Homo sapiens: one gene and its partners. The protein of the gene in region 4 interacts with the protein of the main gene of each other region in a biochemical or structural test. Each region holds a gene or a part of one and is shown on either strand. Other genes may lie near its edges.

Region 1 (4,076 bases), on a different chromosome or scaffold from region 4:
GGTGCTAATGTACAGTAATGATCCACAGTTCTCTTATCAAATAGAAAAACAAAATGGAGGGTTTTAAGTGAAGTTCAAAACATAAGGTCATTAGATGTTAAAATTCATTATGTGCCATGTACATAAGTTGCCTTGGTGCCAAAGAGGCAATTCTGCCTATAAGTCTAAACTCCAACAGTGATTCATGGTTCAAAAAGCCCCTGCTAGAAGGTGAGAGTTAGTTCTACTCATTGGTATCACTCTGCCTTGACTTGGAGCATGGGCCTAGATTTACAGAAACTGCATGTTAACACTTATGACCTTCACTGGTCTTCTGGGTTGACCACCTGCTATGACTCAAACTTACCTAGCCCTTGCCTTTTCAAGTCAATTATGCACACTGCTGCCAGAATTATGTACAAAGAACTAAGTTGCAGGTTTCATTTAAAACAAAGTTGCTTTTCTTTTAAAAAATATCTTACCTAAGGTATCCTTTAGGTTTTTCACAATAGATGCTTTCCGAGCACTGTTTTTCCTTTCCACATAGTTAGAAGGCACAAAACCTGTTTTATTCATGGAATTTCGAACTCGCCACCAGGACTTAGAATCATCCAGAAGCCATAATCTCTCATTCTTCTTGATGTCCAACTCTTGTTCTTGTTGGGCCACATAATCAAATTTGGCTACTACCACCACTTCTTCTGCCATCTTTCAGCAGCTTCAGCACTGTAAACACATGGAAAATATTTTTATGTAAGGTTGAGGTAGTATTAGTTCACATGCTTTTCAAAAGAGACACACCTAAAAATCTAAAGACATAAAGATGAAAAGTAAAAAATATGGAAAAAAATACATGAGGCAAATAGTAATTTAAAGAGACTGTGACTGTATGGCCGTGCGCAGTGGCTCATGCCTGTAATCCCAGCACTTTGGGAGGCCAAGGCAGGCAGATCACTTGAGGTTGAGTTCGAGACCAGCTTGGCCAACATGGTGAAACCCCATCTGTACTAAAATACAAAAATTAGCTGGGCGTGATGGTGCACACCCGTAGTCCCAGCTACTCAGGAGGCTGAGGCATGGGAATAGCTTGAACCTGGGAGGCGAAGGTTGCAGTGAGCCGATATCGCACCACTGCACTCCAGCCTGGCGACAGAGGGAGAATCTGTCTCAATCAATCAATCAACCAATCAATAAAGAGACTGGTGTTGCTCTATTAGTATCAAACAAAACTTAAAGGGCAAAAACCATTACTAGCAATAAAGTTCACTACCCAATGAAAAATGTTCTACTCAATTACAATATCTAAACTTCTATGTACCTAGTAACAAGATAGTTTCAAAATATGTTGACAGAACCACAAGGAGATCTTGACAAACCCATTACCACAGAGGACAATTTTTAACATATTATCAGAGTAACAAAACAAAGAAATAAAAACGGCCAGGCCTGGTGGCACACACCTGTAATCCCAGCACTTCGGGAGGCCGAGGCTGGTGGATCACCTGAGGTCAGGAATGCAAGACCAGCCTGGCCAACATGGTGAAACCCCATCTCTACTAAAAATACAAAAATTAGCTAGGTATGGTGGCGCACACTTGGAATCCCAGCTACTCAGGAGGCTGAGGCAGGAGAATCCCTTGAACCTGGGAGGCGGAGGTTGCAGTTAGCCAAGATCGTGCCACTGCACTCCAGGCCTGGGTGACACAGCCAGACTTGGTCTCAAAAAAATAAATAAATAAATACAAACATTATTAAGGCTAGAGAAGAACTCATATCACAACCAGCAAGTCTGATTTAATAGACATATACAGAATATTGCTTCCAAATAGAAAACAAATGAAACACATACAAAAAGCAATCAAATGCCAGGCCATAAAGAATGTCTCAATGTTCACGTAACTGATATCCTACAACCATATTCTCCAACAACCATAACAAAAAGATAACTTTTGAAATACCACGTTTGGAAACTTCTAAAAACTAATGAATCTAAGAAGAAATCATATTGAATTTTGAAAATACTTAGAAGTAAATAATTTTAAAAACTATACATCGAACTCTGTGGGATGTAGCAAGAGGAGTGTATATAGACAGATTTTTAGTTTTAAATAGTAACATTAAAAAACAAAAAGAGTGGCCGGGCGCGGTGGCTCATGCCTGTAATCCCAGCACTTCAGGAGGCTGAGGCGGGTGAATCACAAGTTCAGGAGATCGAGACCATCCTGGCTAACACGGTAAAACCCTGTCTCTACTAAAAATACAAAAAAATTAGACAGGCGTGGTGGCGGGTGCCTGTAGTCCCAGCTACTTGGGACGCTGAGGCAGGAGAATGGCTTGAACCCGGGAGGCGGGGCTTGCAGTGAGCCGAGATCGCGCCACTGCACTCCAGCCTGGGCCGCAGAGCGAGACTCTGTATCAAAAAATAATAATAATAATAATAATAAAATTTAAAATAAAATTTTAAAAAGAGCTAAAAATAAATTAATGAACTGAGTATCTATCTTAAGCAGTTAGAAAAGTTAAAGAAACATTAGAAAAACAAATCCAACTAGAAAATGAGCAAAAAAACATGAAGAGGCATTCACTGAAGATTTACAGATGGCAAATAAGCAGATGAAAAGGTATTCATCATTAGCTATTAAAGAAATGCAAATTAAAACCACACTGAGATGTCACTACATACGCTTGTCAGAATGGCTAAGAGTGGTAATACCAAATGCTGACAAGGGTAAGTTGAAATTGGATCACACGTATACTGCTGATGAGAATGTAAAATGGTACAGATACTCCGCAAAATTGTCTGACAGTTTCTCATAAAACTAAACATGCAACTACCATACAAGCTAGCAACTGCACCCCTGGGTATTTATCCCAGAGAAATGAAAATTTATGTTCACATTTTACATGAATGTTAACAGCAACTTTATTTCTAACAGTCAAAAACCGGAAACCACCCAGATGTCCTTCAACAGGCAAATAATTAAACAAACTGGTACGTTCATACCAAAAAGAACAATTGATGCACAAAACGACCTGGATGAATCTCCAGGGAATTATAACTGCTCAGTGAAAAAAGCCAATCTCAAAGGTTAACTATATGACTCCATTTATATAACACTCTCAAAATGACAAAATATGGAAATTAGAAACAGATTAGTAGTTGCCAGGGTTAACGGGGCAGCAGGAACAGGAGGGAAGTAAGTATGACTATAAAAGGGCAATATGAAGAAATTTTGTAATATTATTGTGATATTGTACTATACTTCTGCCAGATGTATTGCCACTGGAGGAAAGCATACACTGGATCTCGCAATAAGTTCTAAAGTTTCTCAGAATTGCATGTGGATCTATAATGATCTCAAAATAAAAAGTTTAATTAAAATAAAAACTGAAAGAGAAAACACAAATAGTCAAAAAGTATTCAAAAGATCCTGAATATCTTTATAATTAAAGAAATGAAAACTAAACTGAAATACCACACTTTACCTATCAGGGTGACAAAAGTATTACCAATATTATCTAGTCCTCCCCAGAATGTACAAAAATAGCATTCTACTACATTACTGGTATAATAACTAAAAATTTATATAATGCTTTTAAGTTTTATAATTATGGCACTTTTCAACATTTACAGAAGAGAATAGTATAATGAATCCTATACCTATCACCCAATTTTATCAATATTATGCCTTGTGGTTCAGCTATCCCCCTAATTTTTGGTGGGGGAACTGGAATCCCATGATTTCATTAAGCACTAACAGATTAAAAACCCATACCCCTCAAAAATGAACAAATCAAGGGCTCCTGACCTTTTCCCTTTTTTAACCCATATATGCCGGAGGTTGCAATTTCTTGTGTGAAAAATCAGACCTTGGTGACGACCTTGAGCATGATATAAATAACTCTCACAAGCTTAGCGTTCCAATAATGGAACACTAGGCACAAATGGGTTAAGCCATGGACCTCCCCTCCTCCTGCCTAATGGCAGTGTGGTGAAACATAGAACCTCTACTCACAATGTTTCTGATGCATAAAAATATATAAGATTGCAAACAAGTCAATTATACTAAAATTAAATTATCAGTATATTTTCAAAA
Region 2 (4,076 bases), on a different chromosome or scaffold from region 4:
TTCTAGTGGGTATTCAGTAGCTTAACAGTTGAATGCAGAAATCATGAAAGATTTGAGGGGCAGAAATATGGTCTGTTTCTAGGTTATGATCATCTCATATTATCAAAATAGCATGTGTAGTATAGTTCTTAAAAAGATACATTTAGAACTGCAATCACTGGTAAAGGAAGGGCCCTCACATATCACAAATTATCAAGGATCAGGAATGTGTATGGCAGTAAACATTTTAGAATGCAAAAAAAAATTGCTTTGAATTGATATTCAAAGGGAAGTATATAAATAGGTACCATTTTGGGGAGCCTTATATAAGGGGATTAGAAATTAAAGGACATATTTGTGAGACTTGTGGAATTGGTGATAATATAACAGAAGAGCATAAACTGCATTTTCTTGTTTTCTACTATGTGGTTAAAGAAAACATGTACTGGTAATGCTATATTAAATAAGGAAACAAAATCATCCTAACTAACCACAACACTGTCCTTGTGCTTAGCAGGAAATAACTAACAAATTCATTTTCTGTTTTCTATTCTAAAGAAAGCCCTCTGGGCCACAGGGTCATTGGGAACATTTTCTCCTTGGAGCAGATTTGCCCATTGCAAAATAGGGAAACTGGCACTTGGAAACTGTCGTCATGGCCGTTACATTGAGCAACTGAGGTTGCATTGTTGCTTTGTTTAGCTAGTTTCAGGTCTGAGTGTGTGTAGGTTCTGAGAGGTGTGGTTCTCTGGGAAGTCACCTAGAAAGCCCGTGGGTTTTTTTTTGGAGGGGGGCAAAATATGGAGGGATAATATTGTGTTTAAAAATTGGCCTCAGGAGCATCAATGCAGGAGGTCACACTGGACCTCTTCTTATCAGTCCTCATAAATGGCTCGTTTCCACCATGAAATGTTGACTTGAAGTCTGTGATCTAAGGTGGGGAAAGGTAGACAGGGGTCTTTCTGGAAGAGCAAGACCTGCCAGAGTGATATTTTTACATATCTAATGTGTATCATTTATCCAGAAAGAGTACATCTGGTGATAGAGTTGAGTAAAATCTTTGCATTTCTTAGAAGATTGCATTGTATGGAGGGAGGTGTTTTCTGTGCCTTCTGTGGAAAGGCGAGGAAAAAGAGTTAGAAAGGCCTTGCAGGGATTAGCAATTCTGTACAATGTTATAAAAACATCATGTTCTGCAAATAGTCCTGCATTTTAAAAGATGGTTGCATATATTTTGGTATAATTACACCCTATCTTGTTGTTTTCTTATATTCATGTTTTTAAGCAGTTTCCTTATTGAATAGATGCAGTAAATAGCATAAAAAATGAAGATCATTTCTTTCTTTGGGATTTCCTGATTAGCAGTTTTCCAGTGTATAGTGTACTTTGTTGCTACAAGGAAAGGTGTATTCCTAAGGATTTTTACATTCTTTAGGATAGTTTTAAATTAATGTGGCACCCAGATTCACATATTAGAGAAAGGTGGTTCACAAAATTCAGTATAGCAAAAGCGACTACATATTTTTTAAATGCTGTTTATTTAAAGAATCTTTTCTTCCCCAGCCAGCTGGAAACCCAGCTGTGCTGCAGCTTGAAGATGGGAAAGTGAAACTAGATTAGAAACTGACCAGTCCTAGTGATGAGGACAAGGCATGGTTGTAGATTTAACGATTGAATTACCACCCTAATGTCATTATTTCTTGTAGTGGCTGCTTTCCTCGGCAGACTGCATTCTTGGGGTAGGAACAATAGCTTATCTTTGAGGTCTTCTTTCTCCTAGTTCTCCTGCCCTGCCGCGTTTCGTACTTTGCCTGGTTTATAGAAGGACTCTCCATCAGTGTCATTTGAATGGATAAAGTCAAGTGAAGTTAAAGAAAGCCTCCAGATTAAAACTAAAACAATCTTAACTCTCTGACCTGTGACATCAAGTCCTGTGCTGAAAAGCTGAGTTTGATGATAGCCTTTACCTGTCGCTATGGGAACCTTTCTTCCGAAAGAATCATTATCAACTAGAGTACTTAACCACAATGTGCTTAATCATTGTGCTGATTAGTGTTAATGGGATTTGAGCACTGGAGAATAAAGATCTTGCTGGAAAAGACCCTCTTATTTTTTTTTCTTTTGGAAGGTAGATTACTACTTGCCCACCCCCAAATTTAAACAAAAATAAAACAACCGTCGGTTTGAATTAACAAACAGTTTGAGAGCTAGGGATGGTGGTATATTAACAATCTAGGTGACTAACTTCCTCTCGGCCCCTAATCAAAGCAAGTGTGCTTCCCCTTTACTATCCTGTTTTATCTAGGGCATTTTAATTTTATTTCCTAATATCAATTAGTTTTTTCTTTATAAAATTATATTTATATTTTTGGAGCTGTAGCACATTTATATGGCTCAAAATTCAGAAAATACATAAAAATATATGATGAAAAGTTTCCTTCTTAATCCCTGTTCTCAGCTACCCCGCTTTAAGGCTCTGTGGTAAAATATTCAGGAATAATTTATTCTTGAAGTGTGTGTTTCTCTAAAAACACAATGTTTTTCAAAGCAGTCTTTTTTTTTTTTTTTTTTTTGAGATGGAGTCTTGCTCTGTCGCCCAGGCTAGAGTGCAGTGGCACATTCTCAGCTCACTGCAACCTCCGTCTCCCTGGTTCAAGCAATTCTCCTGCCTCAGCCTCCTGAGTAGCTGGGATTACAGGCACCCGCCACCGCGCCCGATTAATTTTTGTATTTTTAGTAGAGACGGGTTTTCACCATCTTGGCCTGGCTGGCCTCGAACTCCTGACCTCGTGATCCACCCGCCTTGGCCCCCCAAAGTGCTTGGATTACAGGCGTGAGCCACCGCGCCCGGCCCAAAGTAGTCTTAAATTTTCTTTCAACAGAGGGAGAATGTTAATTTTGCCATTAAGCCAATTTTGTGGTAAATTCTTCCCAGGTAATACATATTTTCTTAACCTGGCCCAAGATCTTATCTACCTAGTTCCAGTGATCTCTGAGTCCTCTATCTCAAGTATCTATTAAAGGATCCTCTTTTCTCCTCAATACCTTACCTCACAAATATAATTCTGGACTCAGGAATGAAAATACCAACTTATTTTTCAGATACTTTGCCGTTAAGTTTTCCCTGACAATACATTGTATAAGTCTTAACTGGGATGCTCAAAGGAGAGATCCAAAGGTTTATCACTGAGATTTAGGGCTGCATCTCAACCCATACAGCAATTCTTATTGTTTCACACGCTTGGTGATCTCACAGTAGAGTCCATGTGGGAGATCACATGATTTCACAGACAAAAAGAGAAAACTCCACAGTGCATGATTGCTTTGATTTTCATTCAGAAGACAGAGACCGCAGTTGTCAATGAAGAGTTTGATTTTGACCATATTCATGCACAGCTGGTACAATCCCAGGGAATTTAGCTACCTGAATACTGTTCTGAAGTACGTTTAAAGTAACTGATTGGAACATAGTGTTAAAATTTCAGAGGATCAGGGAATTGCCATTTGGATACATAGGAAAAAAGTAAATATGCAAATATCAAAGCAGCAGAAGTCTTAACCCTCTAAGCGCTGTTTGCTTAGTGGCATTTGGCAATTTTGAAAATTTGTGAAAGGAATGGTGATATCAGTATCATTGAAGTTTCCCCAGTGCAGTTTTCAACAACTTGTTCTTAGATCTTTCTTTGCAAGATCTGAAGTGCTGTTAGTATAATTTGCACTAAAAGTAAAAGAAATTTCCCCCAAATTTTGTGTTTGGATGGATGGGTGTATATGGTGTGGGGATTTCTGTCTTACTTGTTGCTAGCAAATTAACCCTCTCCTCCCACTTACTTTTTCGAATTTGTACATAGAAATAAGTCCAGTTTATGAATTTCAAGAGATGATACAGGCAACTCTTTAGGAAACTAGGGAAAGTAGATGAATTAATCGGTAGAAGTGCTAAATTATGACAAGTTTGAACAATGACTTTTATATTTAATTAAAGTAGACTTCTTTAAAAACAGTAATACACGCAGATGAATCTTGCTGAACTAGAGCTCCATGTCAGGTTGTAAGAACTGAAGCACACATAGAGGACGATTAAAAGGTATTAGGAT
Region 3 (4,076 bases), 3.0 Mb from region 4:
GGCATCTCGGGGAGACCGAGGCAGTGTGCTGTGCCCACTGGGGCCCTCCCTCCAGGACACCGGCTCCAGCGACTCTGCAGTGAAGGGGAGAGGTGGGCTGTGAGCAGGATGGGGCTCTTCTGTCTGGCTTAGCTGTTTCTCACCCTGTTCCCCCTTGACTTCCCCACCATCTTCCAGAACCTCCTCTGCCCTGGGCACTCCGCACTCTGGTGCCCCTCACCTGCAGATGCCAAAGGTCCTGCTGAGGCCAGGTGCCCAGGCAATGGGTACCTGTCCCCTCCCTCCTCCGTAGGGATCTCGTAGCTCAGCTTCCTAGATTGTGGATAGGGCGGGCTGCCCGGGGAAATGGAGCCAGCCCGTGGGGAGTGGGCACCAGGGCTGGGATACCCTCTGCCCTCTCCTGGAGAGCCACAGCTATGAGGCACACGGCCATATGCTGGGCAGTAACTGGGAACTGCTCCTCCATAGCTGTATGTCACCAGGGCAGGGTACCCTGGATGCCCATACCTGCCTTCGGGGCACATGGTGTAGGAGCAGCCCTCGTGCCCTTCCTCGCCTGCCTTGGGTGGCTTCAGGCAGCTGTAGTCAGGCATCGGGGCATGGTGATGCCCACAGGCAGGCAAGAGCAGAGGCAGCGGGTGCCCAGGCCGCACTGGGTGCAGGAGAGGCTTGCCAGCCTCACTTGCCCACCCTTCTCCAGCCTCCCTCTCCAGCCGCAGTCCATACAAGGCTGCTGTAGGCAGCGCCAGCTTCTCCTCGCAGGCTGGGCATGGGTATAGGGCAGGCAGCCCAGGGTCCTCCAGGATGACCACCTCCCGGTAGCCTGGGGCGCGGTAGCCAAAGTCCCCAGTGGCTGGTTTCCCCATCTCAGGTGGGTAGGGGTATAGCCCCTCTGACAGCGATCGGCAGAGGCGCCTCTTCTCCATCGAGGCCTCGGCGTAGCCCTGGGGGGATCCCTCATAGCCCCCGTAGGCCAGTCGCCTCCTCTCCAGGGTTCCCTCTGGCCGGTAGTAGCCCCCATTGGGAACCCCGCAGGGCTCCCGGTAGCCCTGGCGGCAGGAGCAGTGGCGGCTGAGGCCAGGCCTATGGCCTGGATACACTCCGAGGTGGGGGCCTCCGCCCACAGTGGGCTGCTCTTCGTCATCTAGGATGGCCGTCTCGCGCCCAGCTCCCCGGCCCCCACTGGCCACTCCGCAGCCTCCTAGGAGGCGATCCAGCTCCTGCCGTTCAGCAGCTGTAGGGGGCGGCCGGCCAGGGGACTCAGCAGCCGGCTCTGTGGTCAGCGTGGAGGAATGGCCTGAGTCGCTGCTGACAGAGAGCATGGGGGGTGGTGGAGGCTCTGGAGAGGGTGCCGGGGGGGTCTGCCGGGGAGGCCGCTGCACCTGGGCATAAGGACTGCCATCCAGGGGACCCCGGGTGTGGGTCAAGGAGCCTGAGTGGGGAAGAGGATCAGGGAGGGAGGGCAAGCGGGGAACAGGGAGGGAGAGAGAAAATTCATGAGAGGGGATGGCACTGGAGACAGCTGTCGGGCCGGGGGTGTCTCTCGGGAGTGGGCTCTGCCTGGGGAGGAGGGAGTGTGCTTCTCCCTGGCACCACCCCCCAGGGTCCCGCCACAACCCTGTACCTCCCACCCTGCAGGCTGCCTGCGCACCATCCACACTGTCCTCGTGGTGCTGGTTGAAGTTCTCATAGGAGTCCCAGCGCACGGCTGGCTCAGTGGTGTTGTAGTCGACAGAGACCGAGGGGTCGTTCCGTGGAGTGCTGCCTGTGGAAGGCCACTCGGGTATTGGGGAGCAGGGGAGAGGCGGCCCTCAGTCCCCAGCCCATGTCCCTGCTCTTACCTTTGATCTTCTCGGGGCTGGAGGAGAAGACAAACTCCACGGAGGCTTGGAAGGGGAACCTCTCATCTATGGGGAGTGGACAGTGAAGAACCAGGCCCCTGGCCCATACCACACTCTCCTGCCTGCCTGCCACCTGCCTGCCACCTGCCTGCCACCTGGACTCCAGCCCCAGGCCACTTGTCTCAGACTCACCAGTCCAGGCCTCGTCAAGCTGGTCCTTGGGGAAAGTGAGCTGTGGTCCGTGGATGGTGCAGGTGTGGAACTGGACTCGGAACACGAGGGTCCGGTCTGTGCCCCGGCCACCCTTGTGATAACATGTTACCTGGGAGAAAGGCAGGAGGCTGCGGATCAGGCCTCATGTCCTCTTCTGCGCTTCCACCCTGGGGACTGCCTGGTCACAGCTTCTGCCCTGCCTCGATCTCAAGGTGATCTCCCTACTCGCTCTCCAATCTGTCTCAAATTGGTGACTGTGCCGTTACACCACCAACCCCTGCCCCATCTCCAGGATTCTTCTTGTTGACAGGACCCCCCTCACCATGACATCGCCTTTGAGGAGGAGGGCTGGCTCCAGGCTGATGCAAAGCTGCTGGGGACCAGGGCCTGCAATGTGACTGTGGGGAGAGAGGAGAAGGCAGAGATGAACCAGAAGCTCCTGCGTGCAGAGGCAGCTATGCAGTCAGGGGGAGCCAGGAGACCAGAGTCTGAGCCCTGCCCAGGTGTCTAGGGAGGCTGGAGAAGCAGGAATGCAGGAGCAAGAGGGGCCCTGGTCATGAAGTGTCAGGGGCCTGGGAATAGAGCACTCACTAGACTCCAGATGTGTAGACAAGCTGCATGGACTGGTAGATTTTAAGGAAGGGCTGGAAGCCTGGAGGGGCAGAGGAGAAGGCACAGGAGGGGTGCTGAGTGGAGAGGGCCTGAAGGTGGTTCTCCCTAGGGAGCACATCTCAGGCAGACTCACCTGTGCCAGGTTCAAAGGCTGGCAGCATGGGGATGAGCACATAGTGCAGGAAGAGAGGGCTGCTGTTCATTCTGATGGAGCCAGATAGCAGCCCACTGAAGTAGCTGATATATCTGGTGGAGGGCGTGTCAAGGAGAACATAAGCCTTTTCCTCTGGAGGTCACCTTGTATCATTTCAACCATCCACCCTTAGAAGGCTCGCTCTTCTGCTCAACACTTCCTTCCCATCTTCCGGGTCACCAGAAAGTTCTTCCTTGCATCTAACCTCAATCCCTCCTGCTCCCCTCTGCCTCAAAGCTCTTTCCCCAGAGCTCTGCTTCACTTTATAGTGGCAGGCCCTGACTGTCCTTCAGGTTCTCTTTATGACTGATCTCCTCGTCTATTTATTCCCAGGTCTACTGCCTTCCACCCTACTAGCATGAAAGCTCCATGAGAGCAGGGGCTTTGTCCACTTTGAATTCTCAGCACCTGGCACGGCGCTTGGCACACTCAGTGAAAGTGTGCTGCATGAATAAGAGAGTCTTGGCCTTGGTAGCCATGAAGGGAGCTGCTCCTCTGGCCCATCCCCACCCAGGCTGCTCACCGACGCTGGGAGGGCTGCAGTTCTGTGGCCACCTTGTCCTCGCAGAATTTCCGCATGGTAAGAGTGGCCAGTGCCTGGTCCGCCCTGGGGATAGCAAGGCCAGTGTTGGGGATTAGGGATTAATCTTCATCCTGGCCTCCCATCCCTAAGCCCCAGGGGATGGAGGAGAAATATGATTCTCTAAGTCTAGAAGAAGCCCAGAGTAGTGGTAATGAGAATGAGAAGCACCATGTACAGTCACTTTACTAGTTGTTGGGCCTCAGGCAATTGTTCCCTGAACTTTAGTTTTTTCATCTGTAAAACAGGGCAACAAAACCATCTTATGGGTTGAATTATATCCCCCCAAAAGACATGTACCTCAGAATGTGACCTTATTTGGAAATAGGGCCGTTGCAGACATAATTAGTTAAGATGAGACCATACTGAAGGAGGGTGGACCCTGAATCCAATATGATTGGTGTCCTTATAAGAAGAGAGGAAGAGACACAGACAGAGACACACAGGGAGAACACCATGTGATGACAGAGGCAGCGATTACAGTGATGTGTCTGCAAACCAAGGAATGCCAAGGCTTGCCGCCCACCACTGGAAGCTAGAAAGAGACAAGGAAGGATTCCATCCCGAGTCTCAGATGGAGCAAGGGCCTGCTGACAGCTTGGTTTGGGGCTTCTGGCCTCCAGAACTGTGAGAGAGT
Region 4 (4,076 bases):
AAAAACAATAGCATGTGTTTTGTGTGTGTGTGTGTGTGTGTAGAGAGAGACAGAGAGAGAGAGAAGTGATAAAGCGTATGTGGTATTTTTTTTGGCGGGGGACAGAGTCTCGCTCTTTCACCAGGCTGGAGTGCAGTGCCGCGATCTCGGCTCACTGCAACCTCTGCCTGCCAGGTTCAAGCTATTCTCCTGCCTCAGCCTCCTGAGTAACTGGGACTACAGGCGCACACCACCACGCCCAGCTAATTTTTGTATTTTTAGTAGAGATGAGGTTTCACCATGTTGGCCAGGATGGTCTCAATCTCTTGACCTCGTGATCCACACCTAGTGATCCACCTGCCTCAGCCTCCCAAAGTGCTGGGATTATAGGCATGAGCCACTGTGCCCGGCCATATGTGGTATGTTAACATTTGGAGGATCTGGGTAAAAGAGTGTATGGGGGGCCAGACGCGGTGGCTCACACTTGTAATCCCAACACTTTGGGAAGCTGGGGCGGGTGGATCACTTGAGGTCAGGAGTTCGAGACCAGCCTGGCCTACATGGTGAAACCCTGTCTCTACTAAAAATACAAAAATTAGCCGGGCATGATGGCACACACCTATAATTCCAGCTACTCAGGAGACTGAGGCAGGAGAATTGCTTGAACCCGGGAGGCAGAGGAGGCGGAGGTTGCAGTGAGCCAAGATTGCACCACTGCACTCTAGCCTGGGGAACAGAGTGAGACTTTGTCTTAAAAAAAAAAAAAAAGTATATGGGGAATTTTATACCATTCTTGCAACTTTAGTGTAGATCTAAAATTATGTCAAAATAAAAAATTAAAGGAAAAAAAAAAACAGGTGGTCATAGTGGGTTTTTTTTACACACACACACACATTTTAAATGCTGTCCTATAGACTAGAAAGTCCCTTTGTTCTTTTTGCTCCAAGGAGCAGAATGAGTGAAAACAGCTAAAAGTCATGGGGAGACAGAATTTTCTTTTCTTTTCTTTTTTTTTTTTGAGAAAGAGTCTCGCTCTGTCGCCAGGCTGGAGTGCGGTGGTGTAATCTCGGTTCACTGCAATTTCCGCCTCCTGGGTTCAAGTGATTCTCGTGCCTCAGCCTCCTGAGTAGCTGGGATTACAGGCATGTGCACCACCACACCCAGCTAATTTTTGTGTTTTTAGTAGAGATGGCATTTCACCATGTTAGCCAGGATGGTCTCGATCTGACCTCGTAATCCGCCCACCTCGGCCTCCCAAAGTGCTGGGATTATAGGCATGAGCCACCGGGCCCAGCCTGGAGACAGATTTTTATCCAAATCTAAGGAAGAACTTTTACAAAACTTTAAGAAGGAGGTTGGGTGCTGTGATCCCTAGCACTTTGGGAGGCCAAGATGGGAGGATTGCTTGAGCACAGGAGTTCGAGATCAGCCTGGGCAACATAGCAAGACCCTGTCTCTACAAAAAAATACAAAAAAATTAGTCAAGTATGATGGTGTGTGCCTATAGTCCCAGCTACTTGGGATCACTTGAGCCCAGGAGGTCGAGGCTACAGTGAGTCGAGATCACGCCACTGCACTCCAGCCTAGGTGACAGAGCAAGACCCTATCTCAAAAAAGAAAAAAGAATAAAAAAGAAAACTTTAAGAAGGAGGATATGTTGTTCCTGTCCCTTGTTCCTTGGCAGGGCGATATTGAATTGCTCAAAGATGTTCCTGAGGGGACCGAAGGCCTGGATGGAGGATGTGTTAAGCATTCTTTCAGGTCCTTTGTAACAGGCTAGAATTTTATGACTTTGATTCCTAGTCAGCTCCACATAGGAAAGTTTTGGCCAATGAAATGAACTGTGAGGGGTGCGTGGGCTGGGGTCTAAGGAGGGAAGGCAGGATCTCTAACCCATTGAGGCCGGTGATCAGAAAGTCCAGGTTGCCCAGGATCTTGGTGCAGTTCACAAATCCATCAATGTTGCTCGAGTCCACAGTCTGGAAGCGGCTCCCAGAGCCTGTTCCCTCACAGGCTGCAAATGTAAGAGAGGTTCAGTGGGGGTGGTCTGCGCAGGCTCAGAGGAAAGGCTGTCTCTTTACAACTTCTTACCATCTCCTACCCACCTTTGGGACATAGTCCCCCACAAGGCTCACACATCTTGAGCCCATTTTTATCTACTTCCATCTTGTCAGGAGGACAGGCCCTGACACAGGATGTTTGATCCACCACAAAGTTATCTAGGGAAGAGGAGGAGGACACCATTAGAGATGAGGGAGGAACATCACCAGCTACCAATGGAACCCTTGCTCTGGGCCTAGGCTCCCTCCAGCTCTGCACTGGATTTGTCCCCATCTGCCACCCTAGATCCCTTAAGTGCTGCCCTATAGATTCAAAAGTCTCTTCACTATTTGTTGCTACAAGGAGCAGAAGTAAGGGTGATAGCTGAAGTCATGGGAGGACTGGACGTAAGGGTCACTCACTGGAGTGGTTAGATGATCATAACCATTCACCAATCTCCCTATTTATCACCAACTGGATTCTTTTTCCCTTCCACAATTTTGTCTAAAATCTTGGATCTACTATTGTTGATCATTGTTCCTTCCCCTCAGACACTTACGGGGACAGCTGGCTACACAAACTCCTCCATACTGATACTTGGTGTGGGGATTGGGTTCCAGCTGGAAAGTTAGCTTGTTGTAGACAAGAGGCTGTGGACAGCGAGGTACACAGGCTCCACTGTCATTGAAGTGCCGGCAGGCCTGGGAAAAAAGGAGGCTCATCAGATTTATGTTACGTGTGTACCCCTACCTCCTCCTCAAAGGCCACATCCCAATTTCAGAACCCAGGCAATGGAAAGGGTACATACAAAGCAGTCTGTGTCCTGAGGGCCTGAGCAGCCCCCGGCACACTCATCATGGCAGCACTGGTTGGGGTTGGGCCCAAAGCAGTGACCATTACACTGAGGAGCACAGATGGTCTTGGTCACTATGGAAGGAGAGAAAGCATGGCTGTTAGGGCTCCTAGGACTGAATTCTGAGGCCACTGCTCATGCCTCCCCCACAGTGTTGACCCAGGCTTGGGGAGGAAGGGATATGAAAGCGTATGAGTGAAGTTTTTGGAGGGAATTTCAAACCCACATGTCTGGCAGTCTTCTGATCCAGGACCCCAGCATCGCCCCTTGCAAACCTCATGACAGGGGGGACCTGGTTGGGAAGGAAGGCAACACAAGGGGCCATCAGGGCTAAGAAAGGCTTGTTTTAATCAACGGGGTATGATGTCAGTACACAGGCACCTCAATCCCGGGAAGCAAAAAGCCAGGGCTGTGTCCCTCCCTGCCCTTGGAGAGCAGGGCTGGGCTCAAGTGGACCTGTCAACAAGGGGCGCGGCCACGCCTCCACACCACCCACTGGGCAGCTGAAGGGGAGGGACTGGGGCAAATGCCAACCTTAGTCCTAGTCCCAACCCAGGAACTTAGTTCCTCCTGGGCAAACTGAATATATGCAGGAATATATGCATGTGAATGGTCAGGGGAAGGTGGGCTCCAAGGAAATGGGAGTATATTCTAGTGGAACGAGTAACAGATGTGGAGTCTAAAGATCTGGCTTCCCTGCTTAGTACTCAGGGATTTTTTTTTTTTTTTTTTGAGACAGGGTCTCACTCTGTTGCCCAGGCTAGAGTACAATGGCACAATCACAGCTCACTGCAGCTGCAGCCTCCTGGGCTCAAGCAATCCTCTGCCTCAGCCTCCTGAGTAGCCGGGATTACAGGTGCGAGCCACTACGCCTGTCTGATTTTTTTAATTTTTTGTAGATTTTTTGCTATGTTACTCAGGCTGGTCTTGGACTCCTGGGCTCAAGCGATCCTCCCACCTTGGCTTCCCAAAGTGCCAGGATTATAGGCATGAGCCACCATGCTCGGCCTGCTCCTTTTCTTGAAACACCTCCTCTGTGGTTTAGATTCCAGGAGACTGGAATGGTCTGCCCTGGTGGGCTGCTGAGTCAGGGACCTGAGGTGTTTGTTCACTGGGGAGGCGGGTTCAGATCAGGAATGTAAGGATGATGGAAAGAAGGGAGTCACTCTGGTTTGGTGGGACTGGGGAGCAATCTTGATCACGG
Region 5 (3,134 bases), on a different chromosome or scaffold from region 4:
CTGCCTCATCCTCTCCAGTAGCTAGGATTACAGGCGCCCACCACCATGCCTGGCTAATTTTTGTATTTTTAGTAGAGACGGGGTTTCACCATGTTGGCCAGGCTGGTCTCGAACTCCTGATCTCAAGTGATCACCCACCTCAGTCTCCCAAAATGCTGGAACTATAGGCATGAGCCATTATGCCCGGCCAAGTAATGTTATGCAGTTTTGTTGTCTTAAGCTACCAGATATGTGGTAATTTGTTACAGGAGCAAGAGGAAACTAATATAGCCAGTAACTATTTTAGGGCAGTTAGAAAACCTCAAGCATTGAACCCCAATTTTCTTTCCTTTCCTTTCTTTCTTCTTCTTCATCTTTTTTTTTTTTTTTTAAACAGGGTCTCACTGTGTCGCTCAGGCTAGAGTGCAGTGGCACGATCATAGCTCACTGTGGCCTCGACCTCCTGGGCTCAAGCAATCCCCCGCTCCTCGGTCTCCCAAAGCACTGGTATTATAGGTGGGAGCCACAGCACCCAGTCTGAACCCCACTTGTCTTTGTATTTCTGGTCCCCGGGAGAGTCCTTCACCATTTCTGACTTGTCATACAGCAAGAAGGCAAATAGATATTCAGGAATTGGAAGGACAGGAAAACCAACGTTTTGGTAAAGACTTTGGCATTTATATCTTTTATTTAAATATTCATTTCACTATTTTGAAAGTTTCCCTTCCAAATCACAGCTGTAACTAAAATCCAACCATTCCAGGAAATAGAAATATCAACTTGGGGGCTTCCTGAGAATGTCAGATTGTGGATTGCAAGAGTCAAAAAGAGATTTTCCAGTCCAACCTACCCACTGGACAGATGAGGAAACTGTGGCTGAAGCGAGGGTGGGTGTCTGGGAGTAGGAAGGGGGTGTGGGCCCTGGCGGATGGTGCTGGAGCCACCTTGCAGCCACCACCTGGGCACCCCCTGGCCCTGCCCTGGTCCTCCCTATCATGGCTGCTGTTGGTACTGGCTCTCTGTGGCCGTGTAGAAGTCATCCAGCACACTCTGGATGTATTCGAAGGTCGGCCGCTCCTCCGGACGGTTTTTCCAGCAGCGCATCATGATGTTGTAGAGCTCCTCTGGGCAGTTCTCTGGGCGAGGCATCCGGTATCCACGCTCCAGAGCTCGGATCACTTCAGGGTTTGACATCCCTGAAAAGGAGCCGTGGAATTAGAAACGGAAGCAGTTGGGAAATGAGAGCCCAGGGGTGGCAGGCCCTGTGGCCTCCCCAGCAGGCATCACTCCCCACCTCACCTTGCAAGCTGAGCCCCTTCCACTGTGAAAGACAGACTTCCACCCTCAGCTTCACTTGCAGCTAGGACATGGGCCTGGGACCCAGTTTGGGCCAATGGGAGCTGATGGGGAGGTCTGCTGGGAAAGTGATGGAAAGGTTTTTCCTCCCGCTTAGAGGAGAGTCTTTGGAGAACGCACCCTTCATCTCTTCCTTTGAACACTGTGAGATACTTATGATACTTGGAGCTGACAACATGGAGAAGACCATCATAGAGACAGGAACCCAGAGTCCTGACAGCTGCTGAGTTGCTGAACTAACCAGTCACCAATGGAAGATTGGGAGTAATAGATTGCTTCTATTTCAGTTACTCTTTGTCTGTTATTTTGTTGCTTGCTGTGGAACACATCCTAATGGATTCAGCGTCTATTGTGTGTTGCCTGGTTTTGACTAGTGCACCCTCAAGACAAAACATTCAGGTGGCCAGATTCAATGTTAACCTATGGGTGGGACCATTTTTTTGTTCAGTTCAAGTTTCTATTAGCTATTCATAAGAATAGCCATTCAATGTCTGTGATCCCCAATTTTATATTATTAGTCTCAAACTCCAAACTCATGAACTCAAGTGCTTCCTTTACTTGGATGTCTCTATATTTAAGTCAACTCAAATTTAGCAGAGCTAAAACAGAGCTCTCCAATTTCTATCCCTAGACCATTACCCACCCTGTGGTGCAAAGCCAGGGTAATCATCCTTTATTCTCTCTCTCTCACCTCCTAAGTCAGCAAGTCAGATCTTTTCTCCTTTTGAAACGTAGCACCAGTTCATCAACGTATGCCAGTCACGAATGCCACCACCCTGTCCAGACCATCATCACCTCTGCCTGGGCCACTGCTGTGGCCTCCTCACTGGCTGCCACCCTGTTCCCTTTCCCTCCCATTCACTCTCCATGCTGAAAGCATCGCTTAAAAATGGAAATCACCAGCCCGGCAACATAGCAATACCTTGTCTCTCAAAAAATTTAAAGAATTAGCTGGGCATGGTGGTGTGTGTCTGTAATCCCAGCATTTTGGGAGGCCAAGGCTGGAGGATCGTTTGAGCCTGGAAGTTAGAGACCAGGCTGCACAACGTAGTGAGACCAAGTCTCTACAAAAAAATTAAAAAAATAAAAAATAGCCAGACATGGTGGCATGTGCCTATGGTCCCAGATACTCGGGAGGCTGAAGCGGGAGGATCATTTGAGCCTAGGAAGTCGAGGCTGCCATGAGCTATGATTACACCACTGCACTACAGCCTCAGTGACAGAGTGAGACCTTGTCTTAAAAAAAAAAAAAAAGGTGGAGAAAGGACAAGATCTGATTTAAAGTTTAGAATTATCCTTCTGGCTGCAAGTGGAGAATAGGCTGTAGGACGAGGAGGGAGAAAGCAGTAAGACTGATGAGGATGCCGCTGCACCATCTATGGGAGATGACGCTGGCCTGGATGCAGTGGAGACTGTGGGGTTCAAAGTGGTGAGACTTGGGATATGTTTTGGAGTCGAGTGGCCAAAACCCTGTGACTGCTCAGATGTCATAGGGGTGAGGCCAGGCACAGTGGCTCACGCCTGTAATCCCAGCACTTTGGGAGGCCGAGGCAGGCGCATCACCTAAGGTCAGCAGTTCGAGACCAGCCTGGCCAACATGGTGAAACCCCGTCTCTACTAAAAATACAAAAATTAGCCAGGCATGGTGGTGGATGCTTGTAATCCCAGTTACTCAGGAGGCTGAGGCAGGAGAATCGCTTGAACCTGGGAGGCGGAGGTTGCAGTGAGCCGAGATCACGTCACTGCACTCCAGCCTGGGTGACAGAGGGAGACTCCGTCTCAAAAAAAAAAAAAAAAAA
Region 6 (4,076 bases), on a different chromosome or scaffold from region 4:
AGTGTGTGTGCATGTTTGATTCAAATTATCACATGGCCCTCTGTTGGCGCACATGTGCAAATTCCCGCATTGCCCATGTTGAGTTTAAAACCTCGAACTTATTTTATTGAAAAATTGTTAAACTGAAAACAATCTTAATTTGGCGTTATTTAGAATTTTTGAATAGTTCTACCGGTATCCTTACTTTAAAAGATTTCTGGTAGATAGAAATGGGCCATCTTTATCATATGACTAGATACCAATAGTAAAATATAAAGGTTTAGGGTTTGGGAAAGGATGCATTATTCTCTTTGATATAATTTTTTTCTAAATTAAAAATAAAGCCCCCAAATGTTTTCTAGTTTCCTGGAAAATTTATATACTGTATTATAGATTTTCCCCCTCAAAGAAATACCTACTTACAGGTGATATTAGGATATTGCACATATGAATTATAATTCAAAAATATTTCAACTTAATCTGAGAACAGGGACTGTAAAATACAGAAGTCTGGTGAATTTTGATCATCTAGGAAACATTAAACTATTTGAGCAACAGCTTAGAATGTGAATTAATGAAGGACTTAAAATTTAAACATGGAAGAAGTTCCTGAGCAACAGTAGAATTCAAAGCTCAAAGCATGTCTAATTGGTCCATCATTGAGTTTGCTGCTAAATAACAGAATGGGGCTATGCACACAGAAAGGCTGCAGCTTACTCTGCCTAGAGGTTTATATTCTTTTCAGCTGGGCCTCATTGGCAGCACCTTTTTACTCCCCTAAGTATCTTGACATTTCCTTTTTTCTTTTGGTGACGTAAAAGAAAGAACAAGGAACTATGCTCTTGATAGAAAAGAAAAATCCAACAGCAAAGAACAATGACTATTTTCATTAAATTTCCATTTTAAAAGTATTTGATATTTGGACCTAAAAGAAATACCAATGAGTATTGATTACGGTGCTGCCCACCTTTAAATTATCTTATCCTAAAGTCAAGCCTGGGTAGGACCCCAATCACTCAAGGAGGCTGCTGGTCTTTAGCAGGTTCAAAAGGCAATATCCTGGTCCTCCACCTTCTCTGTCCTCAGATCCACGGTGGGGAAACTGTAGGAAGGAATATGAACAGTGCAGGGGACAGGAGGCAGGGGTTCAGTTTTTAAAGAGCCAGTGGGCCATCTGAAGACAAGCACAGCCTTGACATTCAGCTCTGAAACTGCCTGCTGGAGGGGCGAGGCTGGAGCAGGAAGCAATGCTGTGTGGGCTGCACCGGGTTTGCCTTTGGCCCCAGCGTGGTCCCCAAAAGACGGGCTCCTTCTTAGAGCACATCACAGCACAGACTTCAAAAGGATAAGAAGTGACCATATTTAGAAATGACCCAAGTGCCAAGGGCAAGAATCAGGAGGCCCAATGTAAAAGCAATGGTTTTAGGTGCCCACTGCTCAGAGCTATTCCAACAGCGTCAGCATTCAGTGAGCCAGCAGATTACGCCATTCATAAACACCTGTGAAGGCTCCAGCGAAGTTACATAGGTTTCAGCTTGTGGAGTGTTGTATATTTACTGACAGTGAAAATGGCGAGCTATTTATAGGAGATTTAACGATCAGAAAAGTACTGCATTATTTCCTGATACACTGGACCCTTCCTGATATGCTTCCCTTTTGGAACAAAGCTCTGTTTTTACAAGGACTCTTTAAAAATTATTTTATTACTCCCATTTGTGCATCTAATGATATTTGGGGTGGTATAAATCATTTGCTTTATTTGTAAATGCTCTACTGCCTTTTATAGGTGGTCTTCGTAAATTACATTTACTCAAAAATTTATTCTTAATTTTTTTCACTTGACAAAGTGTATAAAAATATCTTAAATTTTCATTTTCTCAGAGCTGTATTCTTTTGGTAACTGTGAGCAAAGATCATACAAAAGTTATTTTAACTATATTAAAATAACTATATCAATTCTACTATAATATTGTAGAATTTTATTTTACCTCTAGACTGAAAAATTGATTTTGATGTGGAGTTGAACTTTAAAAAGTTGATTTTTTTCTCAAAATTCTTTCGAAATCTTATGATATGGATGGCTTACACGTAAATATCTAAATGGTTTGAAAAATAGTTTAAGAATTTCTTTTGACATTAATATATAAAGTTATTAATTTGATCTGGATAGTGAGTTGTCTCTTTTTATGTGACACAAACATAGATGTGTTAAAGGCACACACACACCACACACATATACACAAACCACACACACACCTCACATATACACACACATATGCACATACACACCATGCACCCACACACAACCATACAGACACTGCACACACACAACACACACACCCCACAGCCCACAGGTAGATGACTTGTGATGACTTTGGATGGGGGCTGTTTTCTTTCTTGTTAGAAAATAGGAAATGTCATATTTCTAGAAATACCCAATTATCTCAGTCATTTCTTTTATATTCATGTTTAAGAAAAAGATAAGCTACGACAAAACTTCCATCCTATAAAGAACAGATGGCTGCTTCTCTGCCTCCGCACGGTGTCTTACCTTTGAGTATATGTCATAGTTTTGAGGAATATATGATTACTATCATTAAAGCAGAGTCCTGGGAACAGAAAGCCTGGGCAGCAAACACGTGAACCCACTTGCAAGACTGGCTTTCCAGCCAACAGGCTGGCCCTGCAGGATGTGCCGGTGCTGCTGGCCTGCAGTGCCTGGCTTAGGGTAGGGGACATTAGAGCAGACACCTGGCCTGGTGAAGGTCCTGGACTGGTGAAAGGCAGGACACCTGGGCTGCAGCTCCACCGCCAGCTTAGTGTGGGGCTAGAGCAGTCAGCTCACCTCTCTGGACCTGGCTGTCCCTGGCTGCAGCAAGTTGAAGGCAGGGTTGTGCTGGGGTTGGTCTCTATGGGTTGGAGGCCTGGCCGAGGCAGAAATGGTGGCATCTGTATTGTTTTTTGCACCAGCATCTAATGTAATTGGAAGAGACGGGCCCAGGGAAGCACACTGCAGTATCAGGAGTGTGCTCACCTGATGGACACCTGCTGGATCACTGGGGCCAGGGCCAGACCCTGCAGTACAAGGATCCAAGTCCATGGTGGGGCTCAGAGGAAAGCAACAAGGAAGAGCCAGCATGTTCAATGAAAATACCCAAGGGCAGTAGAGTTAGTGAATTATTTAATTCATAAATAAAATGGTTTCAGATGCAATGGAAAGAAATGACCAGTTATGTGTGTTTCCTGGGTAAAGGACAAGAAAACAATTTTGCAATTTATCATAAGAGTTCTATAGTATGTGGTGGAAAAATAATATCTTTAAGGTGGGAGGCAGTGAGCATAGGAACAGCCTACTGAGTGGGTGGATGTTGACCATCGTGTGTGTGTGTGTCTGTGTGTGTGTGTGTCTGTGTGTGTGTGTCTGTGTGTGTCTGTGTCTTCGTGTGTGTGTGTGTCTGTGTCTGTGTGTGTGTGATGGGGTGTGGGGATGTGCAGCTGCACAATATGCCTTACAAGTTGGTTTTGGTCTTACAAGTTCATAATTACTCATTTTCTGTTGAGTTAAAAAACAAAACAAAACATTTTGACCCCACTGTGATTTTGCCTCTCCCCTCCCAACCAAAACAACAACAGTGTGACAAGGATCCACTGAGGGTCCACTGGGAGTAATTAATCCATGTCTCCCAGTGCTAGAATTGGTGAATTTTCCCTGAGTGGCCACGTCAGAGTTGCAGAGCAGTCACGGTTATAAATAAGCAGAGTGGCACCAGTTACACTGGGGTCAGAGGGATTAGGCATCCCTATTTGGACCATTTGAACCCCAGTGAGATACCAGGGGCCAAAGGCCATGTTTCCATGGTTACAGGCCATGCTGATCTTCTTTGTCTTTGTGAGGAGAGTTGGTGAGAAGGTGCCGGATATACCTCAGCCCTCCTGTACCACCTGACATGACTGGAAGAGGCACTGCTCTTCTTGGCTGGCGAGCATCTTCTCAGCTCTGGATGGCACCTCTGGCGGGTTTCTTTTTGAGGCAGGTGGCAGCAGTTTAGTTAGATCCATGGATTCTATGATCTATGGATTCTGGGCTCAGACATGCC
Region 7 (4,076 bases), on a different chromosome or scaffold from region 4:
TTCTGGCAGGGACAAAGGTACTATGTCACCAATAGATACAATATCATCTTTTAGGTGGTGAAGAACAACAAAGCTGGGTCAGGGCTAGAGAGAGAAGGAGAGGCTATTTTGGAGAGGGAGGTCAGGGAAGGCCTCCTGGAGGAGGTGACTTAGGCAGAGACCTGAATAAAGTGGAAGGTGTTGGAGGAAGAGTCTCCAGGCAGAGGGAACAGACAGTACAAAGGCCCTGAGGCTGCACCATGCCTGGTTTGTCCGAGGGACCTGAACGAATAACATGAGGAGGCCCGTGTGGCTGGAGGGGAGTGAGTGGCGGGGGGTGGTGATGGGCATCATGAAGGGCCTTGGGGGCCACCCTGAGGACTTGCATTTTCACCCCGAGTGAGGTGGGAGCCTAGAGGGCTTCAAGCAGAGAAGAGGATGTGATGGCATGACGGGGGCCAGCAAGTCTCACCCCAGGGAGTCCCTGCAGCCCCAGTGCTGGACACCTTCACTGGCCCTGCTTTCCGGAGGAGGTCTGGCGAGCTTCACTCGCTGCTGAGGCTGCACTGTGACCATGTGGTGGGTCCACGATTCCATGATTTGAATCCAATCCCTGCAGTCAGGAAAGACATATGAAGGAGGAGCCTGCAGCCATGGCTAACTGCGGCTGTGTGGCTCATGGCGTCACCAAGCTGGCGTGTGCTGACGACCAGTGCCTATGCTGCCTCTGTTGGTGGGCACAGGCGGCCCGAGCACAGCTGGGGGATTAAGGAGCAGGGAACATGGCTTCAGAGGGACTTAGGGTCTCAGGTGAGGACTAGGGGTTCAGAGAGAGAGAGCCAGGAGCTGGAGTGGGAACAGGGTGGTGGGGGGGCAGTAGGAGGAGGTGGGGCGGTGAGGGGCTGGGGCCCTGCTCCTGCAGAGCCTTGGATGGGGACATGTCAAGCCTCTGGCTGGGGGGACATGCGGAGCCTCTGGCTGGGGAGACATGCGGAGCCTCTGGCTGGGGGGACATGCGGAGCCTCTGAGCCTCTGGCTGGGGTGACATGTGGAGCCTCTGGCTGGGGGGACACGAGGAGCCTCTGAGCCTCTGGCTGGGGGGACACGTGGAGCCTCTGGCTGGGGGGACATGTGGAGCTTGTGCTGCTCCTGCCCGCTCCCACCAGGTCCAGTGGCTTTGGTGTGATACCTCTGCTCTGACGATGGGCATGTAATGGGGGCTTCTGATGCCCAGGGAATGTTCTGTGAAACAGTAGACCTTCAAGGCTTTGCTGAATAGGTGTGGGAATTAAGTGACGCTGAAAGAGGTCCTTCCATGTGGTCTTCTCGGAGCCTTTAATGTGCTTTTCACAGCATTTGAAACTGTATTTGACCCCTTGACTCTTTTTTCCTTTGAAGCATGTTTGGGGAATCTGATCTCTCTGGAACAGCTGTAATCTAGCACTGCCTTTACCCAGGGAGGCTGGGTGAATGGTGGGATTCCAGGCAGGTCCTTCTGACCAGGCTCCAAGGCTTCCTCCCATCATCCTCCCAGGGCCTGGGCTGTGAGTGTGGGGCAGGTGCCCCGTGGCTGCTCTGCTGTGATCTCTGTGCTGTGATCCAGGGGCTGTAAGTTCTGGGAAGGCCAAACTAGGATCTCTGAACTGTGAGCTCAAGAGGAAGCTGACTGGGGTCAGCCTAGGGAGAACCATAGGCCAGGCTTGGGGAATGAACAGGCTCACTGGGGACTGAGGGACGCGGCTCCTAACCCAAGTCCTGTCCGTCGGGATGGCCCAGGCAGGTCGAGGGCTGGGGTGGGTCTCATGGTGGGTGTGTCTTCTGGGAGGGCCACGAGTCTGCAGGGACACAGCTGAGAACAGAAACATTTGATCCCCTGCCTGGGGTCTGGGGTCACCCCGGGGAGCTCTAGATCGGTGCAGCTCACTGACAGCAGACACTCCGGCTAGCCGCTGCGTGGCAAATGCTCCCACCTCTTGCCCCCGGACTTTTCATCTCTGCCACCTCTGCCCACCTTCTCTGGCCTCCCCAGCATCTCTGGCCATGGGGTCCCTGGGAACTTGGGCCCCATGTTTTACTAGTGAGGACAGTCCAGAAAGGCCCCAGGGGTGGAAGAGGAGGCGCCCACCACCCGACCTGTGTGTGTGGGGTGGTGCTTGTGATTACCGTTGTCCTTGTGGGCAGTGGGACAGGGAAGCTGGGACGCAGCCGAGATGCACAGGAAGAGAGCCTGCCTCTGGGACTCCTTAGCCTCGGGTCATGGATGGCAGCCCTGGGCTGGGCACTGAGCCTCCCTCATCTCCTCTTCTGCCCTAACCCACTTCTAGCTACCCAGGCTGCACCTGCGGCCACGTGGGGAGGAGCTTCTCAAACTGTGTTGGCGACAGTTTCCTGCCACAGCTTCCTGCCCCAGAGACCAGCTTTGCTACTCTGCACCCATGGTCCTTGGACAAGCCCTCAGTTTTCTGCCTCATCCTGCATCCTCATGCTTTATGGGAGTGGCTCCATGAGTCTTCAAGGATGGGCTGGCTGGGTTGGAGAAGATGGAGGGGAGAGGGAAGGGTGCACTAGGTGGAGGGTGCTGTGTGGATGAAAGTATGAACATCCATTTGAAGGAAGGCAAGTAGCACAGCTCAGCTGGGGCAGAGGGCTGGGGAGATCCAATGCAGTAGCCATTAGGGTCTTGAGCAAGGGAGGCCTTGGGGAAGAATTGCCAAGGAGCAACTTGCAGACTCTGGGGCTCAGCTCTGTGGAAATAGACTGTGAGGTTCAGCCAGCCACAGGCAGCATGAGCATGCCATCTGGATCTTAGGTTGGTTGTATTAATGGAAACAGTTGGTGGAGATCAAAGGAGATGATGCCAGCACCAACCGACCTCAGTCGGGCGAGAGATCTGGGCTCTGGGAGAGGTGGGTGTGGCAGCATGTACAGCTACTGACAGGATGACCCAAGTAAGGGGACGGGGGTGGGGGAAGGAGAGTGAGCAGGATGGTCAGAGGGCAGAGGCAAGCCAGGGAGTTTGTGAAGGACCAGAGAGGTCTGTGGGGCTCAAGCAGGAGGGAGGAGTCATAGGTGTCGGCCATTCAGGGGGCCCAGGATTGAGGAGGTCACAGAGTGCTTGTCTGGTGCCTACAGACTGCCAGGGGTGCTATCAGTGCTGGAGAACAGCCTGGGGGGGGGGCGCAGACCAGGTCTGGCTGAGAGGCTGGGAGTCAAGGACATAGGGACAGGAGTGTAGACAGCCCTTAATCACTTTTCCTATTTTCATTAGCATTTTTAGTGTCCATTGTGTCTGTATCTTCCAGTTCCTTTCCCCCTTAATTAAAAATTTGGGGTATAATTTACATGCAATAAAATTTTTATATCATTTTAGTGAAAAATTCTGAGATTTGACAAATGCATACAGCCCAGAGACTACCACCACATCAATCAAGATACAGACTATTCCCCCAAATTCCGTCCTGCCCTCTGTCGTCACTCCTTCTCCGGCCCCCAGCACCCAGCAACCTCTGGTGCGTTTTCCGTCCCTATAGTTGTGTGTGGAATCACACAATTCGTAGCCCTTGGAACCTGGTTTCTTTCATCCAGCCTGAGGCCTTTGCGATGCGTTTGCGGAACTGCGTGTCTCCGTATGCTGTTCCACTTACCGCGGAGTAGAATTCCACTGTAGGCATGTCCCACAGTGTATCTTATTCATCTGTTGGGAAACATGTAAGTTATTCCTAATTTTTGGCAACTGTGGCTAGTACGGCTATAAATGTTCCTGTGTAGGTTTTTGTGTGAATGTAAATTTCCATTTCTTTAGAGTGAATACCTAGGAGCCTTCATGGGTTTTTTTGTTTTGTTTTGTTTTGTTTTGTTTTGAGATGGAGTTTTGCTCTGTTGCCCAGGCTGGAGTGAAGTGGTGCGATCTCGGCTCACTGCAACTTCCACCTCCTGGGTTCAAGCGATTCTCCTGCCTCAGCCTCCTGAGGAGCTGGGACTACAGGCGCCCACCACCACGCCCGACTAATTTTTTTGTATTTTTAATAGAGACGGGGTTTCACCATGTTCGCCAGGCTAGTCTCAAACTCCTGACTTTAGGTGATCCGCCTGCCTCG

What was found.
Region 1: the proteins of ERBB3 (region 4) and NCK1 form a complex in vitro, tested with the Homo sapiens proteins (2 studies listed by BioGRID and IntAct, with this or other methods).
Region 2: the proteins of ERBB3 (region 4) and NRG2 form a complex in vitro, tested with the Homo sapiens proteins (2 studies listed by BioGRID).
Region 3: the proteins of ERBB3 (region 4) and TNS2 form a complex in vitro, tested with the Homo sapiens proteins (2 studies listed by BioGRID and IntAct, with this or other methods).
Region 5: the proteins of ERBB3 (region 4) and HCK form a complex in vitro, tested with the Homo sapiens proteins (2 studies listed by BioGRID and IntAct, with this or other methods).
Region 6: the proteins of ERBB3 (region 4) and SHC3 form a complex in vitro, tested with the Homo sapiens proteins (2 studies listed by BioGRID and IntAct, with this or other methods).
Region 7: the proteins of ERBB3 (region 4) and ZAP70 form a complex in vitro, tested with the Homo sapiens proteins (2 studies listed by BioGRID and IntAct, with this or other methods).

What each region holds. Positions count from the first base shown.
Region 1 is NC_000003.12:136,924,613-136,928,688, reverse strand, and holds part of NCK1 (SH2/SH3 adapter protein NCK1), read right to left. Parts: intron 706-4,076; 5' UTR 688-705; coding exon 462-687; intron 1-461. UniProt on the Homo sapiens protein: Adapter protein which associates with tyrosine-phosphorylated growth factor receptors, such as KDR and PDGFRB, or their cellular substrates. Maintains low levels of EIF2S1 phosphorylation by promoting its dephosphorylation by PP1.
Region 2 is NC_000005.10:140,036,384-140,040,459, reverse strand, and holds part of NRG2 (pro-neuregulin-2, membrane-bound isoform), read left to right. Parts: intron 1-4,076. UniProt on the Homo sapiens protein: Direct ligand for ERBB3 and ERBB4 tyrosine kinase receptors. Concomitantly recruits ERBB1 and ERBB2 coreceptors, resulting in ligand-stimulated tyrosine phosphorylation and activation of the ERBB receptors.
Region 3 is NC_000012.12:53,056,403-53,060,478, reverse strand, and holds part of TNS2 (tensin-2), read right to left. Parts: intron 3,536-4,076; exon of another isoform or gene 3,467-3,535; coding exon 3,383-3,466; intron 2,913-3,382; coding exon 2,800-2,912; intron 2,707-2,799; coding exon 2,646-2,706; intron 2,453-2,645; coding exon 2,377-2,452; intron 2,164-2,376; coding exon 2,034-2,163; intron 1,908-2,033; coding exon 1,842-1,907; intron 1,766-1,841; coding exon 1,652-1,765; coding exon of another isoform or gene 1,625-1,651; intron 1,433-1,624; coding exon 221-1,432; intron 75-220; coding exon 1-74. UniProt on the Homo sapiens protein: Tyrosine-protein phosphatase which regulates cell motility, proliferation and muscle-response to insulin. Phosphatase activity is mediated by binding to phosphatidylinositol-3,4,5-triphosphate (PtdIns(3,4,5)P3) via the SH2 domain.
Region 4 is NC_000012.12:56,086,665-56,090,740, reverse strand, and holds part of ERBB3 (receptor tyrosine-protein kinase erbB-3 isoform 1 precursor), read right to left. Parts: intron 3,165-4,076; coding exon 3,099-3,164; intron 2,947-3,098; coding exon 2,828-2,946; intron 2,721-2,827; coding exon 2,579-2,720; intron 2,199-2,578; coding exon 2,085-2,198; intron 1,994-2,084; coding exon 1,873-1,993; intron 1-1,872. UniProt on the Homo sapiens protein: Tyrosine-protein kinase that plays an essential role as cell surface receptor for neuregulins.
Region 5 is NC_000020.11:32,099,358-32,102,491, reverse strand, and holds the end of HCK (tyrosine-protein kinase HCK), read right to left. Parts: intron 1,176-3,134; coding exon 973-1,175; 3' UTR 636-972; downstream 1-635. UniProt on the Homo sapiens protein: Non-receptor tyrosine-protein kinase found in hematopoietic cells that transmits signals from cell surface receptors and plays an important role in the regulation of innate immune responses, including neutrophil, monocyte, macrophage and mast cell functions, phagocytosis, cell survival and proliferation, cell adhesion and migration.
Region 6 is NC_000009.12:89,171,887-89,175,962, reverse strand, and holds part of SHC3 (SHC-transforming protein 3), read left to right. Parts: intron 1-4,076. UniProt on the Homo sapiens protein: Signaling adapter that couples activated growth factor receptors to signaling pathway in neurons. Involved in the signal transduction pathways of neurotrophin-activated Trk receptors in cortical neurons.
Region 7 is NC_000002.12:97,716,407-97,720,482, forward strand, and holds part of ZAP70 (tyrosine-protein kinase ZAP-70), read left to right. Parts: intron 1-4,076. UniProt on the Homo sapiens protein: Tyrosine kinase that plays an essential role in regulation of the adaptive immune response. Regulates motility, adhesion and cytokine expression of mature T-cells, as well as thymocyte development.